Regions from separate parts of the Homo sapiens genome. Here region 2 is linked to region 1. A link means that fine-mapping ties the variant in region 1 to the expression of a gene that starts in the linked region. Tissue or cell type: lymphoblastoid cells. Region 1 holds a variant in brackets; the other region holds the start of a gene. All regions are shown on one strand. Distances are from middle to middle.

Region 1 (8,188 bases):
TCTTGCAAAGATCCCTATTTCTTTCAGAATCAAAACCATAATTCTTAAAATGGCCTGCAATGACCCTGTGATTATTCTGACACTGTCTCCTGTTATTTTCCCCTTGACCTCATCCACTCTCATCAACCCACCTTGTGGCTGTCTCTTCAACAGGCCAGGCATGCTGCCACCTTCCGGCCTTCACCTCTCTCAACTCCTTTAGGACTGTACATAAATCTTGCCATCCCAATGAGGCCCCATGTGCCTGCCCTATTTAGTCCTGCAATCTGCCCTCACCCTGTCTCAGGAATGCCCATTTGCTTCCCCCTGCTCTGTGTTGCATTTTTGCCTTAGTCTTTCTCATGATAACATGCACAAATGAGTTTCTGTTTGTTGTTTGTATCCCCTCAACTTGAATGTAAGCTTTATAAAGGAAAGCATCTTTATTTTGTTCACTGGTGGATCCCAAGCCGCTAGAAGGATGATTGGCCACTGTTGGGTGTTACAAATGTATATATTTATTGAATACCTTGAATGGAAAGTAATTTTATATACATATATATATATATATATATATTTTTTTTTTTTTTTTGAGACAGAGTCTCGCTCTGTCGCCCAGGCTGGAGTGCAGTGGCGCGATCTTGGCTCACTGCAACTTCCACCTCCGTGGTTCAAGCAATTCCCCTGTCTCAGCCTCCCAAGTAGCTGGGATTGGGATTACAGGCACACACCACCATGCCCAGCTAATTCTTTTGTGTTTTCAGTAGAGACAGGGTTTCACCATGTTGGCCAGACTTGTCTCCAACTCCTGACCTCAGGCAATCTGCCCACCTCGGCCCCTCAAAGTGCTGGGATTACAGGCGTGAGCCACAGCGCCAGGCCTATATAAATATATTAGTGGTAATTATATTAGATAATTTTTACTGAGCATTTACTATGTGCCAAGTGGTGCACATGTATCATATCATCCAACACTCCCAATGAACTTATGAAGCAGGTATAATTAAGACCAGCAAGTTACAGATGGAAAAACTGAGGAATGGAAACATGAAAGTACATCGTCTCACAAGCAATAAATTTAGATATTAGATATAAATCAAATAAGTCTGACCCCCTATTCAAGCAGAACAATGTTGCTTCTATATTATTTATTTATTGTAATTCCATAGAATTTCGTTTGGAAAGTGGGGGTGTTTCCTATGTAAATATTTTTGGCAGCCACTGTCCTAAATATTTTAACCAAATCAAAATCTTATAGTGGCAATTCTAGGCCTTTAGCAGATTTTCATGTGATTAAATTGTGACATGTGAACTAACTGCCCCACCTCCTGCCACTTAGTACTTGGTTTTAAAGAAGAAAAAGTAAACAACTTTTGCAAATTTAAGGACTTTTTTATACTCTTATAAAAATAATTGTATTCTTGAACTCTCCATTTTGTTGCGTTAGGTTTTCCTGTTCTGGTTCTGCATCTTTGGCCTGCGTTAGTTCCAGTGACTGTCTCCTCACCCTCCCCATTCTCTCTTCTAGGAGAATGATGTAAACCTGACCCACATTGAATCTAGACCTTCTCGTTTAAAGAAAGATGAGTATGAATTTTTCACCCATTTGGATAAACGTAGCCTGCCTGCTCTGACAAACATCATCAAGATCTTGAGGCATGACATTGGTGCCACTGTCCATGAGCTTTCACGAGATAAGAAGAAAGACACAGGTAAGAATTAGAGGAATTTTGCAACATAAGTAACTCCACACTGTCTTCATAAAATAACAGCAATATACATATTTAACAGCATATTTAAATATATGTATATTTAATATATATTGCTGTTATTTTGCGGAAGCAAAATTAATATATATGTATTGGAAATAATGCCTTGGAAGACTGTTTGGGGGATTAAATGAGTGGACATAGGTTGGGGACCTAGGCAAGTGCCTGGTATATTTTAGACATATAGTGAATTTTAGTTATTTTTCCCCTTCCTAAAGATAGCTATTTCTTTTTTCTTTTTTTTTTTTACTTTATAAGCTTTTAATTTTTATTTATTTTTATTTTTCTCTCTCTTTTTTCTTTTGACTTTTATTTTAAATTCAGGGTTATATGTACAGGTTTGTTACACGGGTAAATTGTGTGTCATGGGAATTTGGTATACAGATAATTTTGTCACCCAGGTAATCAGCATAATACCCAATAAGTAGTATCTAATTTTCAACAAAACCCATGAAAGCAAGCAATGAAGAAAGGAATTCCTAGTCAATAAATACTGCTGGGATAACTCGAAAGCCATATGCAGAAAATTGAAACTGGACCACTGCCTTTTACCATATACAAAAATCAACTCAAGATGATTGAATGGATTTTTGAATCTCTCCACTCCAACCAAAGGGATCTCTTCAAGTCCTTTTTGTAACATGCCAATTCCAGAGCTGGAGACACCTGGCTCCTTGTTACTAGGGCTTTCATTGTCATTTTCCATCTTCTTATCTGTCTCTTCTTCTCATACAATCTCCTTGTGGGCAGGTAGACTCTCTTACCTATATTTATATCCTCAGAGTTTAGCACACTGCTTGGTACACAGGTGCTCTGCACATATTTCTGAGTGAATGACTAATATAGGAGTTGTCAAAACTTGCATTGTCCCATTATTTACGTACTGAAATGCTACTCATCCTCCGGGGAGGAAAAGGGTGGTAGAGTATAGAAATTATAAGTGTGGGCTTGAAGTTGAATAGACTGTGGTTCAAGTCCTACTTCTTCCACATATTGAGTTTGATACCCTGACAAATTGCTTTAACTGCCCTGACCTCAATTTTTCATAGGGCTTTTGTGAGGATTAAATGAAGTCATACATAAACAGTGCTTAGAACAGTGCCTGGTGCACTGTAGGGCTGGACAAATGATAGCATGTGGTTGTTATTATGATTATGATTAGCCTGAAAGCAATACAGAGGAAGAAGGTGACTGCTTTTTAGGGCCTCAAGCATATTCAAATGAACCATTTTTTAATAGACTTTTTATTTTATTTTTTATTTTTATTTTTATTTTTTTAGACAGAATTTCGTTCTTGTTGCCCAGGCTGGAGTGCAATGGTGCGATCTCAGCTCACTGCAACCTCTGCCTCCTGGGTTCAGGCAATTCTCCTGCCTCAACCTCTTGAGTAGCTGGGATTACAGGCATGCCCCACCACGCCTGGCTAATTTTTGTATTTTCCATAGAGACGGGATTTCACCATGTTTGTCAAGCTGGTCTCAAACTCTCGACCTCAGGTGAACCACCCGCCTCAGCCTCCCAAAGTGTTGGGATTACAGGCATGAGCCACTGTGCCTGGCCTTAATAGACTTTTTAAAAGAGCAGTATTAGGTTTACAGAAAAACTGCACAGAAAGTACAGAGAGTTCCCAGGTCTTTCATCCCTACCTCAGTTTCTTCTATTAACATCTTGCATTTGTGTGGTATTTTTTTTTAGAACTGATGAGCCGATATTGATATATTATCACTAATTGAAGTCCATAGTTTATATTCGGGATCATGCTTTGTATTTTACAGTTTTATTGGTTTTGACAAATGCGTAATGTCATGTATCTACCATTTCAATGTCATACAGAATAGTTTCATTGCCCTAAAAAATGCCCTGTGCTCCAGCTATTCATTCCTTCTTCTTTACAGACTCCTTCCAGCAACCACTGCTCTTTTTGCTAGCTCCATAGTTTTGCTTTTTCAAGAATGTCACATAGTTGAAATCATACAGTATGTAGCCTTTTCAGACTGGCTTCCTCCATTTAGCAATACATATTTACAAATCCTCCATGTCTTTCTGTGACTTGATAGCTCATTTCTTTTTGTTCCTGAATAATATTCCATGGTCAAGATGTACCACAGTTTGTTTATTCATTCACCTATTGAAGGACATCTTGGTTGCTTCCAATTTTTGATGATTATGAATAAAGCTGTGAATAAACATTTATGTGCAGTTTTTTTGTGTGAAGATAAGTTTTCAACTGATTCAAGTAAATACCTAAGAATGTG[A/G]TTGCTGAGGTTAACTTCTTTAAAAAATTATTTTTTTTCTACTGTAAAATCGAGTTTCTTTCAAAAACACTTGGAAAGACTTTGGGTCAAGAGGAGTTCAGGCACCATAGCTGAAAGAAGCATTTGAATAGGCAGAGATGCTTTAAAATGAGACAAGATCCACCCCGTAAAACAGGCCACTGAAACATTTTTTAAAAGGTAGCTCCATGGCCTTTCTAGGAGACTCATCTCTGCCTTCATTCTCCTGTAGGTATAACCAAGGCAAGGAAAGCCCACTCCAGTGTTCTGGCCTTGTGGAGAGTGGACAGCCATGCAGATGGGCTCAGGTCCCTGGAGGGCAGGCACTTGGAATTCCTCCCTGGATTAGTCCTATCCTGCCTTCTTTCCTTTTCAGCCTCCCAAGCTGCTTCCCCAATGACTGCCCTCCCTTGCTTTTTTCCGGCCACCTGCTCTCAACAGGAGCTGCAGACCCTTTGGACAAAGGGCCTGCCAGATCCTGGGGCAATTCAGCCTCTGGTTGGAGCAGGTGGAGGCTGGGCCAGCTGGGGCCATGAGGAAGGAAATCAAAGCAATTGACAGGCAGACAGCCAGCCCCTGGAGGAGCCAGGGAATATATAGTAAACCAGCTGGAGAGCCGGCAGCCTGAACTGGAGGCTCAGAAAGGAGGTTCTTAGTGGGGACATTGAGGGGGAGTTAAGAGTGCAGATTCAGGAAGCACGGCGACCACACTCGGTGTGACTTTGAGCAAATCATTGACCCTTGCAGTCTCCCACTGTATCAAAGGGGAGTCACAAGAGCCTCTGCCTTATAGGATTGGTGAAATCACACAAGTGAAGCACTGGGAACAGAGCAGAGCATGTTTAATTAAGGACTTAAAGTTATTCTCTATTCTTACCATTATCATCATTATTATTATAAACACTGGCATGAGCACAAGAGCGACCAAAATGCAGCCTGTACACAGCTACTTTTTCAGAGTCTGGCAACTGGAAAATGACCTGAGAGGTCATGCAGCCCTACAGACCCCTTCATTTTTCATTGTGAAAACAGAGGCTGTGACTTGCCTTAAGGCAAACAGTGGGTTCTGGGGGGTCATGCGCAAGGGTGTGTTGAGAGCAGCTCTGTGCCGGGCACAGTGCTAGGAAAGAAAGGGTCAATCTGCCTGTTCTTAAGGAGCTCACAGCCTGGCAAAGGGGAAGACACACCCAGGTAAGTAGAATAGAGGGACAGGTGCTGTGACAAAGACAGGGTTGGTGTGATTCCGCCTGTTCTCCACTCATGTTTAGCTCTGAGGATCCAGGAAGTAAGAAAGTAAAAAAGCTAATGTTTTCCTTTTTTTGAGATGGAGCCTCACTCTGTCGCCCAGGCTGGAGTACAGTGGCACAATCTCTGCTCACTGCAACCTCCGCCTCTCGGGTTCAAGCCATTCTCCTGCCTCAGCCTCCCCGAGTAGCTGAGATTACAGGCACATGACACCACGCCCGGCTAATTTTTATATTTTTAGTAGAGACGGGGTTTCGCCATGTTGTTCAGGCTGGTCTCACACTCCTGACCTCAGGTGATCCGCCCACCTCGGCCTCCCAAAGTGCTGAGATTACAAGTGTGAGCCACAGTGCCCGGCCTAAAAAGTTAATGTTTTCACATAGAGGCATCATGTAATAAAAGTTGGGTTTATTGGAGCCTGGAGGAAGCACAGATTCAATTCCCTAATGGGGCTTCTCGCTTTCTTGCTCAAAATGTCAAAGTTGTTGATATTTGAAGTGGGATGACATTTTCCCTAGGGAAGAAAAACTAGCTAAGACCAACCCTTTAAAATAACATGTGTTTTGTGACCCTTATTTCTTCAGATGATTGGTCACCCAATCCCATAGTGGCTGCCCCCACCTGACCTTACCATACCTGTAATGAGAGAGCTGATGTTGACATGCCACGACCTGGCATCTGCCAAGAAAGACTCTTTGGGTTTCTGTGGTAGTTTCCGTGAAGTGGGGTCTGGGCCAAGAAACAGGTTTTTCTTAAGGGGAACAACCATTCCTTTGCAAAGTTGCCCTTTCTATAGGACTCAGTGGGAGAACAGTCAGAGGAAGAAAAGCATTGTAGTAGATCTGAACCTTTGATTCTTTCTCCGGACAAAATGCCCTTTTTATTGTGGGGCTCAGATCTCAGAGGCGAGTCTGACAGCAGGTTCAAGTAGGAGATCTGAACCCCTCAAATCAATTAAGCTAAACTACTTTCCACTCTAGTTTTTAAACCATTCAAAAAGCCATGTGGGTGATAGAAAATAAAAGTTTTTCAGTTTCTTAATTGCGAAAGTTCCCCACCCAAAACAGCTTAAGAGAAGGTTAATTACAGCGACATGGTAAAGAAACCCCAACCTTCTCAAATGCCTCCTGGAGAAGCTGATGTGAATTTAATAGGATTTTAATCCAGAGAGTCTTTTGAATACTTGAGGTCTATTCTCCTGCTACCCTCTTTCCTGATGACTTCAAATCCTTCTTCAACCCAACATGAAAGAGCATTAATATCTTTCATCGATCAATCTACTAATCCTTTTACCTTTCCCTTTGAGTCGACTGCATGACATTACATTTAGTGGGGGCTAGAAAATTCCTACGTGGAGAGAGATTGCAGCCAGGAGAAGCAGACAGACACAATGTCTTGGGTAGACAGAAGTTAGGAACATCACCATTTGAGAAATATGTTTGCAGTTATTTTCCAAGAGCAGATAAATATCTGTTGGGTTTTGTTTAATCTATGGTGATTATAAGGGTCCTGGTGGGGAAGAAAAGTGAGTTCAAATTGCCAGAACAACTACTGGTTCTGTGGAAAGCAGAAAGACCTATCTGCCTGTCTATCTATCTATCTATCTATCTGTCTATCTATCTATCCGTCTATCTATCCATCATCTATCATCTACACCTGTCTATCTATCATCTATCTACCTATCTATCTGTCCATCAATCATCTATCATCTATCTATCTATCTATCTATCTATCTATCTATCTATCTATCTATCTATGTTGTCTGGGAACACTTATGATTACTGTGAGAAGACAAAAGCAACATCATTATAGTCATTCCTTCCCTCTTGTTGCCCCTCCTTGCCTTCTTGAGTTTCTTCTGCTTCAACATTGCTGACCTGAAGAACTGTGCTGAGTAAAGCTGACATTTCAGATCAATTGGGGTTGAAGGGAGGATAGGATTCCTTAGAGGGCTCTGAAAAGCCCCTGGGATTGTGGGCAAGATAATACATGGGTGTGCATGCATAATTTTTAGGAGACAAGATTTTTCAAAGGGGCTATGGTTCCCAAAGAGTTAAGAATTTTTAGAGAGAAGCCGCTTAGGGCTGGAAGGGAATCCATCTGGTTAGAGTTTTTCCCCACTCCCACCACCTGCACTTTTCTTTCCTCTCTCCTTTCCTCTGCTTGGCTTTTCTGTCTCCACCTTCCCATTGCCCTCTTCTCAGTTCTAAACCTTCTCCCGTGCATTTCACTTTGTGCATTCCATGTGTGCCTTTCACAGCTGTAGATGTATGTGGCTCTGTGTCTGCAGGAGACCAAGTATCTGCATGTTTGCAAAAACACACAGGATTGGCTGTCTTTTTCAGTCTTTACCTGGATGCTTGCTGGATGCACTGATGTAGCACTAAGTCCTGGCAGCTGGGGAGGTCACTCGTTTCAGCAAACTGCCTCACTGAGACAAGCAGACTCCAGCTGAGAGGATCAGCCCATTCAGGGGGAGGTGACACCAACCCAGGAGTGGGAAGCAGAGTCCCTTCATATCCTTGGTAGACTGTCTGCTCCCTGCAGTCAGTCACAGGCAACTCTATTCATTGGCAAAGGAAGATCCTGAGCAAATGCTATTTCTGCAGCCCATCTAGTTTGCCAGGTCACAGAGCTTCAAGCTCAGGAAGATTACAAAATTATAAGGAGGCTCTCATTCTAAGAGGAATCCCTCAGTGATATGCCACACCCAGTGTTTTCCAAATTCTTTCGCATTAGGTTATCTCATTTAAGCTTTGCAACAACCAACTCAGGCAGCTAAAGCAAACATAGTATTATTCTTGTTTTCAATATTAGAAAACAAGTCAGAAAGGTATAATTAAAAGGTTGCATGGATTTTCCAGTTCAATTCCTGGGCTGTAGCTGTTCGGCCAAGTTGCTTTCCCTCTTTAGGCCTCAATT
Region 2 (8,000 bases), 26 kb before region 1:
TACAGCAAAAAAATTAAAATATAAGGGATAACTTTCAAATCAGAGAAAGAAAATTTGATCTATATATCTAGCGGAAAGTTAAAATAGGCTCTATGGTGAGAAAATCCCAAAAGACAATTGATTGTGGGATTGGCCTCTTTAAGTTAAGTGGTATTACCTGGACTGTGGGACCATGTTGAAAAGCCTCTAAGAAATCCCCAAGGCATGTACAGGTATATCTACAATGCAGGTAGATTAAAGATCTAGCTATGATAGATCTAGATGCTAGAGAGAAGAGCACCTCTTTGGAACTTTGGGATGGGGAAGGACTTCTTAAACAATACTCTATAGTACAAACCACAAAAATTTTTAAAAGGATGGACTTGTTATTTCAAAATTACTTGTTTTATTGTTTAATCAAGGAAGGACACCAGTTGACAATTAACTGACAGTGACACATTGGGAGGCAATGTGTTCAGTGACTGAGAAGGGCACAGAGCTAATATTTGGACACAGAGCTAACAGAAATTATTGCAACAAATCTACAAGACAGGAATCCTAGTAGAAAATGGGTAGAAAATATGATGATAAACTATTCATAGCATGGGAAATCTAAGAGGTATAAGTATATAAAGAGATGCTCAAACTCATGAGTTATGAGAGAAATTCAAATTAAAAACAACAAGACACCAGCTTATGCTGATCAGATTGGCAAAAATTCTGACCTTTGGAGAATACCACATATTAGGTATACCCACCAATAGGAACTCTTTTGCCTGCTGGTTGGTGTGTAGACTGGTCCAAGCCACTCTAAAGGGCAATCTGGCAGCACTTTGTGAAATTAAGAGTGCATGTTCCCTATGATTCATAATAGCACCACTCTTCTATCCCAGAAAATTTCTACCCCAGGCCTATAAGGGAAGAAAGATAAGGAAATTTATCACAGTATTGTTTGGGGTGGTGAAAAATTAGCAATGACTTAGATGTCCATAACTGGAAAATAAAGAAGTCAAGTGTGGCAAATACACACTGGGATATTCTGAACCATTTAGAAAAGCAAAGAACTAGATACATATTCAGCAGCATGGCTGGATCCTAAGAACACAGTTGAAAGAAAAAAGAAACTATGAAATCTATAGTACATCCATAGATTGTAGTAAATCTATAGTGCCACATCACATATCCATGAAAAATACATATACGCACAAACATTTCTATGTATTTTACAAGTTCAAGGCTAAACATCATATTAGAGAAGTTGCCTCTGGGGAAAGGCAGTGAGAGTGAGGAATTATGATAAAAGAGAATGAATAAAAAAACAAGAGAAGGGTCATGTAGGTTTTGTTTCTGTGCCATGAACTCATGGATTATGATTAACTCAACCTTCTGCACATGAAGATAAACAAGAAAGAACTGATAAACCTGCAATGGTTGGGTAATCTTCAACTTCCAAATCAGCAAAGGTCAGCTCTAAGTTTGCCAAGTACACAACTTCTCATCTTGTGACATGTTCCCCACCTCTGTGCAGTGTTAAAAAATACCTCAGTGGTCTACTGACTGACTGTGGATGCTTCTTCTAGATGTGCCTTTTTTTCCTCCATTTCCTTAGCACCCAGCACTGCTCTCATTATAGCAGCACATTGCATTCCAACCAAATTGAACAAAAAGGTGGCTTAAAAATCATCTGCAAGTTTATGGCACAAGCAATCTCTTATTTTTATCTTAGTGCATAAATAAATTTTTCCTTTTTGCCAGAATAATTTTTTTTAAAGAAGCGATTAGTTTTTCTTCTCTCAGATAGCAATGATGTGCTTTCCTCTCAACCTAGATTTAGGGCATTTTTATGTGAGATAGGATTAAAAATTCCATTTTTGTACAACCACTATGGAGAACAGTTTGGCAGTTCCCCAAAAAACTAAAAATAGAGCTACTATATGATCTAGTGATCCCACTGCTGGGTATATACCTATAAGAAAGGAAATCAGTATATCAAAGAGATGTCTGTTCTTTTATGTTTGTTGCAGCACTGTTCACAATAGCCAAGATCTGGAAGCAACCCAAGTCTCCATCAACATGGGTTTTAAAAAAATGTGGTACTTTAATACACAATGGAGTACTATTCAGCAATAAAAAAGAATGAGATCCTGTTATTTGCAATAACATGGACAGAACTGGAGGTCATTATGTCAAATGAAATAAGCCAGGCACAGAAAGCCAAACATCACATATTCTCACTCATATGTGGGGTCTAAAAATCAAAACAATCTGATTCATGGAGCTAGAGAGTAGAGAGCTAATTACCAGAGGTGGGGAAGGGTAGTAGGGGCCTGGAGGGGAGGTGGAGATGGTTAATAGGTACAAAAAAATATAGAAAGAATGAATAAGACCTAGTATTTGATAGTACAACAGGGCGAATATAGTCAAAATAATTTAATTATACATTTAAAAATACCTGAAAGAGTATAATTGGCTTGTTTGCAACACAAAAGATAAATGCTTGAGGGGATGGATGCCCCATTTTCAATGATGTGATTATTACACATTGCATGCCTGTATCAAAATATTGCACATACTCCATGAATGCATACATCTACTATGTTCCCACAAAAATTAAACATTAGAAAAAAGAGTTGCATTTTCAGCTGTTATGGGGAGAAGAAAGAAAAGCTATCATTTTGTTGTCCTAAAAATTATGTTGTCCTCATTTCAAACAGGAAAGCAAAAGTATTTGAGAGCCAGTGCAGTGCCTTGGTGTTGGGTGAAACATAGATTGAATTTGGGCCATTTGTTTAAACTTCCTAGGCCTCAGTTTCTTGCCTATTAAAAGGGAGTGCATAGTTCATGGGATTGTTAAGAGGAAGAAGTGAAACCATGCACGTGGAGAGCGTGGCACAGTGTCTAAGACAGAGTGTGCATGCAAATAAGTAGATAATATTCTTTGCTTTTCTTTATTGCATGCCTGTAATATTTTTGGAGTTGTCACATTCATTGCCCTCAAGTAGCATCAAGGGATGAAATTATGTTTGTAAGAAAATCCTGAGGCTGAGGAATACAACATGTTTTATGTCTACTACACTGAAAAATGCCGGAGTCAGATAAAGAATACAGATTCTCCTGAGGATGGAAATCAAGATCTTCGCCTTCAATATTTAACAACATTGAGCTTCCAACTTACTATGGGAAATATTCATCAGGCCCCTAAAGGTTCCTTTTGGACAGAAATTGCACTTGTTATATCTGTATTCTTAGCAGACAGTAGACAGCCTGGCACATCATAAAGGCTTAAGGAATCCTAAATATCCCTTAAAATTCTCATTTTAAAGACAAAAACAAAACAAAAAAAAAAAACAAAAAAAAACTGAGGCATGGGCTTGACCAAATCAGTGGTAGAACCAAGAGTTAAACCACTTGTTTTGAATCCTAAACCTGAGTTTTATTTTACTTATTTATTTATTTATTTGTTTATTTATTTTCAGATGCTTGGTCAAAGAACAGTGGGAGGAGAGGGATGGGCTTCCAGCAACCTTTATTATTGGCTTATTTTCTTACAGCCCATTACTTTCTCTTGGGAAAATATTAAGCAGGCACTCAAGGCTTGAGGCCCCTGAGTTTTCACATCCTTTCTGAACCTCTGAACCTGCTTTCCAGCATTCTTTTATACTTTGTTTTACCTCCTGGTCAGTAATGCCTCACCCTCAGTCTTCTCTAAAAGTGTGGTTAATGGCATCTTCCTGACTATTTGAAGACCACTGGCCAAATCCCACCAGCTCACTCATAGACCATCCCCCTACTTTACTTTCTTCAAAAGACTTAGCCCTACCTAAACTTATTTATATGTTTATTTTCTGCCCACCAGAATGGCAGCATAGCTGGGGAGGCAGAGTCTGTTTTGTTCATTGCTGTATTCCCAAAGACTAGAACACCACCAAGCACACGGTACAGGTCTCAGTAATTATTGTCAAATTTATGTGGATTTGCTTTTAAACAATATCTTCCATTTACTGAGTGTTTATGTGGAAGAACTGTACTAAATTTTAATGCATTTCTTTATTCCTATTCTTAAAACCTTCCAGCAAGGTGGCTCTACCACCCTCTTTTCCGAGCTTCAGGAGCAGTTGTGCGAATAGCTGGAGAACACCAGGCTGGATTTAAACCCAGATCGCTCTTACATTTGCTCTTTACCTGCTGTGCTCAGCGTTCACGTGCCCTCTAGCTGTAGTTTTCTGAAGTCAGCGCACAGCAAGGCAGTGTGCTTAGAGGTTAACAGAAGGGAAAACAACAACAACAAAAATCTAAATGAGAATCCTGACTGTTTCAGCTGGGGGTAAGGGGGGCGGATTATTCATATAATTGTTATACCAGACGGTCGCAGGCTTAGTCCAATTGCAGAGAACTCGCTTCCCAGGCTTCTGAGAGTCCCGGAAGTGCCTAAACCTGTCTAATCGACGGGGCTTGGGTGGCCCGTCGCTCCCTGGCTTCTTCCCTTTACCCAGGGCGGGCAGCGAAGTGGTGCCTCCTGCGTCCCCCACACCCTCCCTCAGCCCCTCCCCTCCGGCCCGTCCTGGGCAGGTGACCTGGAGCATCCGGCAGGCTGCCCTGGCCTCCTGCGTCAGGACAACGCCCACGAGGGGCGTTACTGTGCGGAGATGCACCACGCAAGAGACACCCTTTGTAACTCTCTTCTCCTCCCTAGTGCGAGGTTAAAACCTTCAGCCCCACGTGCTGTTTGCAAACCTGCCTGTACCTGAGGCCCTAAAAAGCCAGAGACCTCACTCCCGGGGAGCCAGCATGTCCACTGCGGTCCTGGAAAACCCAGGCTTGGGCAGGAAACTCTCTGACTTTGGACAGGTGAGCCACGGCAGCCTGAGCTGCTCAGTTAGGGGAATTTGGGCCTCCAGAGAAAGAGATCCGAAGACTGCTGGTGCTTCCTGGTTTCATAAGCTCAGTAAGAAGTCTGAATTCGTTGGAAGCTGATGAGAATATCCAGGAAGTCAACAGACAAATGTCCTCAACAATTGTTTCTAAGTAGGAGAACATCTGTCCTCGGTGGCTTTCACAGGAATGAATGACCATTGCTTTAGGGGGTTGGGGATCTGGCCTCCAGAACTGCCACCAATTAGCTGTGTGTCTTTGGACAAGTTACTGTCCCTCTCTGTTGTCTGTTTACTCTTCTGTACACTGAAGGGGCTGGTCCCTAATGATCTGGGATGGGATGTGGAATCCTTCTAGATTTCTTTTGTAATATTTATAAAGTGCTCTCAGCAAGGTATCAAAATGGCAAAATTGTGAGTAACTATCCTCCTTTCATTTTGGGAAGAAGATGAGGCATGAAGAGAATTCAGACAGAAACTTACTCAGACCAGGGGAGGCAGAAACTAAGCAGAGAGGAAAATGACCAAGAGTTAGCCCTGGGCATGGAATGTGAAAGAACCCTAAACGTGACTTGGAAATAATGCCCAAGGTATATTCCATTCTCCGGGATTTGTTGGCATTTTCTTGAGGTGAAGAATTGCAGAATACATTCTTTAATGTGACCTACATATTTACCCATGGGAGGAAGTCTGCTCCTGGACTCTTGAGATTCAGTCATAAAGCCCAGGCCAGGGAAATAATGTAAGTCTGCAGGCCCCTGTCATCAGTAGGATTAGGGAGAAGAGTTCTCAGTAGAAAACAGGGAGGCTGGAGAGAAAAGAATGGTTAATGTTAACGTTAATATAACTAGAAAGACTGCAGAACTTAGGACTGATTTTTATTTGAATCCTTAAAAAAAAAAATTTCTTATGAAAATAGTACATGGCTCTTAGGAGACAGAACTTATTGTACAGAGGAACAGCGTGAGAGTCAGAGTGATCCCAGAACAGGTCCTGGCTCCATCCTGCACATAGTTTTGGTGCTGCTGGCAATACGGTCCCCACAACTGTGGGAAGGGGTTAGGGGCAGGGATCTCATCAGGAAAGCATAGGGGTTTAAAGTTCTTTATAGAGCACTTAGAAGATTGAGAATCCACAAATTATATTAATAACAAACAAAGTAGTGTCGTGTTATATAGTAAATGTGAATTTGCAGACACATTTAGGGAAAAGTTATAATTAAAAAAATAGGCTGTATATATATCAATGGTTCCAAAATTTTCTATGGTTAAGAATCACCTGGGATGGTTTTGAAATGGCAGATTCTAAGACAACTTGATTCAACAGGTTTAGGTAAAGCCCAGGGAACTGCATTATAAGAAGGAATCACCTGTAATTTTGGAGTCAAGATCCAAGGAACACTCATTGAGAAACACTGATTTACAAAGTGCATGGAGAGAAATGGAGCAAGTGAAGGGGGATCAGCATGGTGAAATATAGGCTGTTAGGAGTGCTATTGACTAACTGTCTGGTGACTGGACCAGAGTAAATCTTTTACTTTGCAAGAAACAGGACTAAATTCCCATATTATGTCCATAGCAAAGGGAATTATGTAGAAAAATTGATAATTAGGAGCCTGAGTTCTTGACCAGCCTCCACTACCTATGTGGCCTCAGGTGAGTTATTTTCTCCCTTTGGCTCTAAGTTTTCCCCATCTGTAATGTAAGGGAGTTTAACTAGATGAGCACTAAGGACAAATCAATTTCTGTGAGTCAATTATTATGAAATACCATGTGGGCATCAAATGCCAAGTGGAAAGCATAGATAAAGAAGTGATTGTGCACCTGGGCTGAGGGGAACAAACATTTCCTAAGAGAATTGAGACCCAAAAGAGCCTTTAAGGAAGGTGAGATCTTGGAAAGGGAAATTTGGTGAATACTCTAATGAGGAGCTAAAAAGGCAAGAAAGAAAGCAGCTTGGCTGGAAAGGAGGTTCCTGTAGGTGGGCCTCCAGAGATTCGGTACCACAGAAACTGCCAAACATCAGCAAGAAGCCATGGGGATGGAGCGTTTGAGGGATTCTAAATAGAAGGACAAGAGTAAAAATGTCAGGCTGGATCGATGCAGGCCACTAAGAAATGGATTCAGGTGATGGCAGTGGGAAGAAAGGACCTGATGCCCAGAGGCATTTCTGGAGAAGATGAGATCAGACTTGTGATTGGCTGAACACACACTGTAGTGGGGTGGGGTTTAGGGGGTGACTCAACTTCAAGCCCAGGTACATTCAAGTCTGAATTGCCCTAGTCAAAAGTGGCATCTGTGGATGTGTATCAGAAATATCTTACTTTTCTTGGAAGCCAACAGGAGAAAAGAGTGCTACCAAGTGAACTAGAGACAGGAATATCTTTTGTCATTTCAAGGAAACTGGAAAGAAGAAGGCTCAGTATTCTTTAGTAGGAAGAAGACTTAAGTCAGAGACTCATCTGTACCTCTCTGGCAGGGTTTAAAAGGGGGAAGAGGAATAGAGGCTGCAAGAGATTGTGATTCATGGACAGTATGCAGAGATCAAATGACCTGGGTTCAGATCCTGGCTCCACTGCTAACTGTGTAACTATAGGCAAGTTCCTTAACCTCTCTAAGCCTTAATCTTGTCATCAATAAAAGGGGGCACTTGGTGCCTAATAAAACCTACCTCTTAGGTTGTTGCCAAATTACATGAGATAATCCAAATCAAGTGCTTATTATAATACCCAGAAATTATAGGCTCTAAATAAATGTTTATATAGGCTCTAAATAAATGAAGTTTTTTAGAAAGATAACATCATGATCAAAATGGGATATTTAACAGTTTAGTCTTCCATTTCATTTGAAGCTCCCTAAAATCACTCTTGCTGATAAATTTGTTTTTTCCTTCACACCTCAGTTTCATGGGATGTTTTGGCAAAAATCTGAATTTTCTGAATTGAAAGAATTTTTTGCTAAGGGTCATCAGTATTCATGCAGGGCTTGTTATTCTGAGTCACTAAGAGTTTCCTAACACAGCCTTCTCTCATTGAGATGATGTAACATCTATTCCATTAATTTCATTAACTTGCTTACAAGAGAGTAATTGTTCTGCAAATTTTTTTCTTCCCAGTTTTAGGTACCTGCTGCTTATTGTGGACACACATAG

Direction of the effects. Alleles are on the strand shown, and positions count from the first base shown. SD is a standard deviation of normalised expression in the study named.
With allele A in place of G in region 1, the expression in lymphoblastoid cells of the gene that starts at base 4,654 in region 2 is lower (moderate effect, 0.49 SD a copy in GEUVADIS).

The links. PIP is the estimated chance that this variant, and not a neighbour inherited with it, causes the effect.
Region 2: PAH starts here. The variant in region 1 is the best candidate, but not a certain one, in a credible set for the expression of PAH in lymphoblastoid cells (GEUVADIS, PIP 0.53).

The regions. Positions count from the first base shown.
Region 1 is chr12:102,888,238-102,896,425 of GRCh38, reverse strand. It overlaps PAH (phenylalanine hydroxylase), which reads left to right. Exons shown (of 13, transcript NM_000277.3): 3 at 1,508-1,691. The region is part of intron 2 of LOC124902999 (a long non-coding RNA gene); the gene reads right to left. Among named protein-coding and RNA genes, the nearest start is that of PAH, 25 kb to the left of the region's middle. The variant A/G (reference allele first, on the strand shown) is at 4,004.
Region 2 is chr12:102,913,898-102,921,897 of GRCh38, reverse strand. It overlaps PAH (phenylalanine hydroxylase), which reads left to right and starts at 4,654. Exons shown (of 13, transcript NM_000277.3): 1 at 4,654-4,827. The coding sequence starts at 4,768.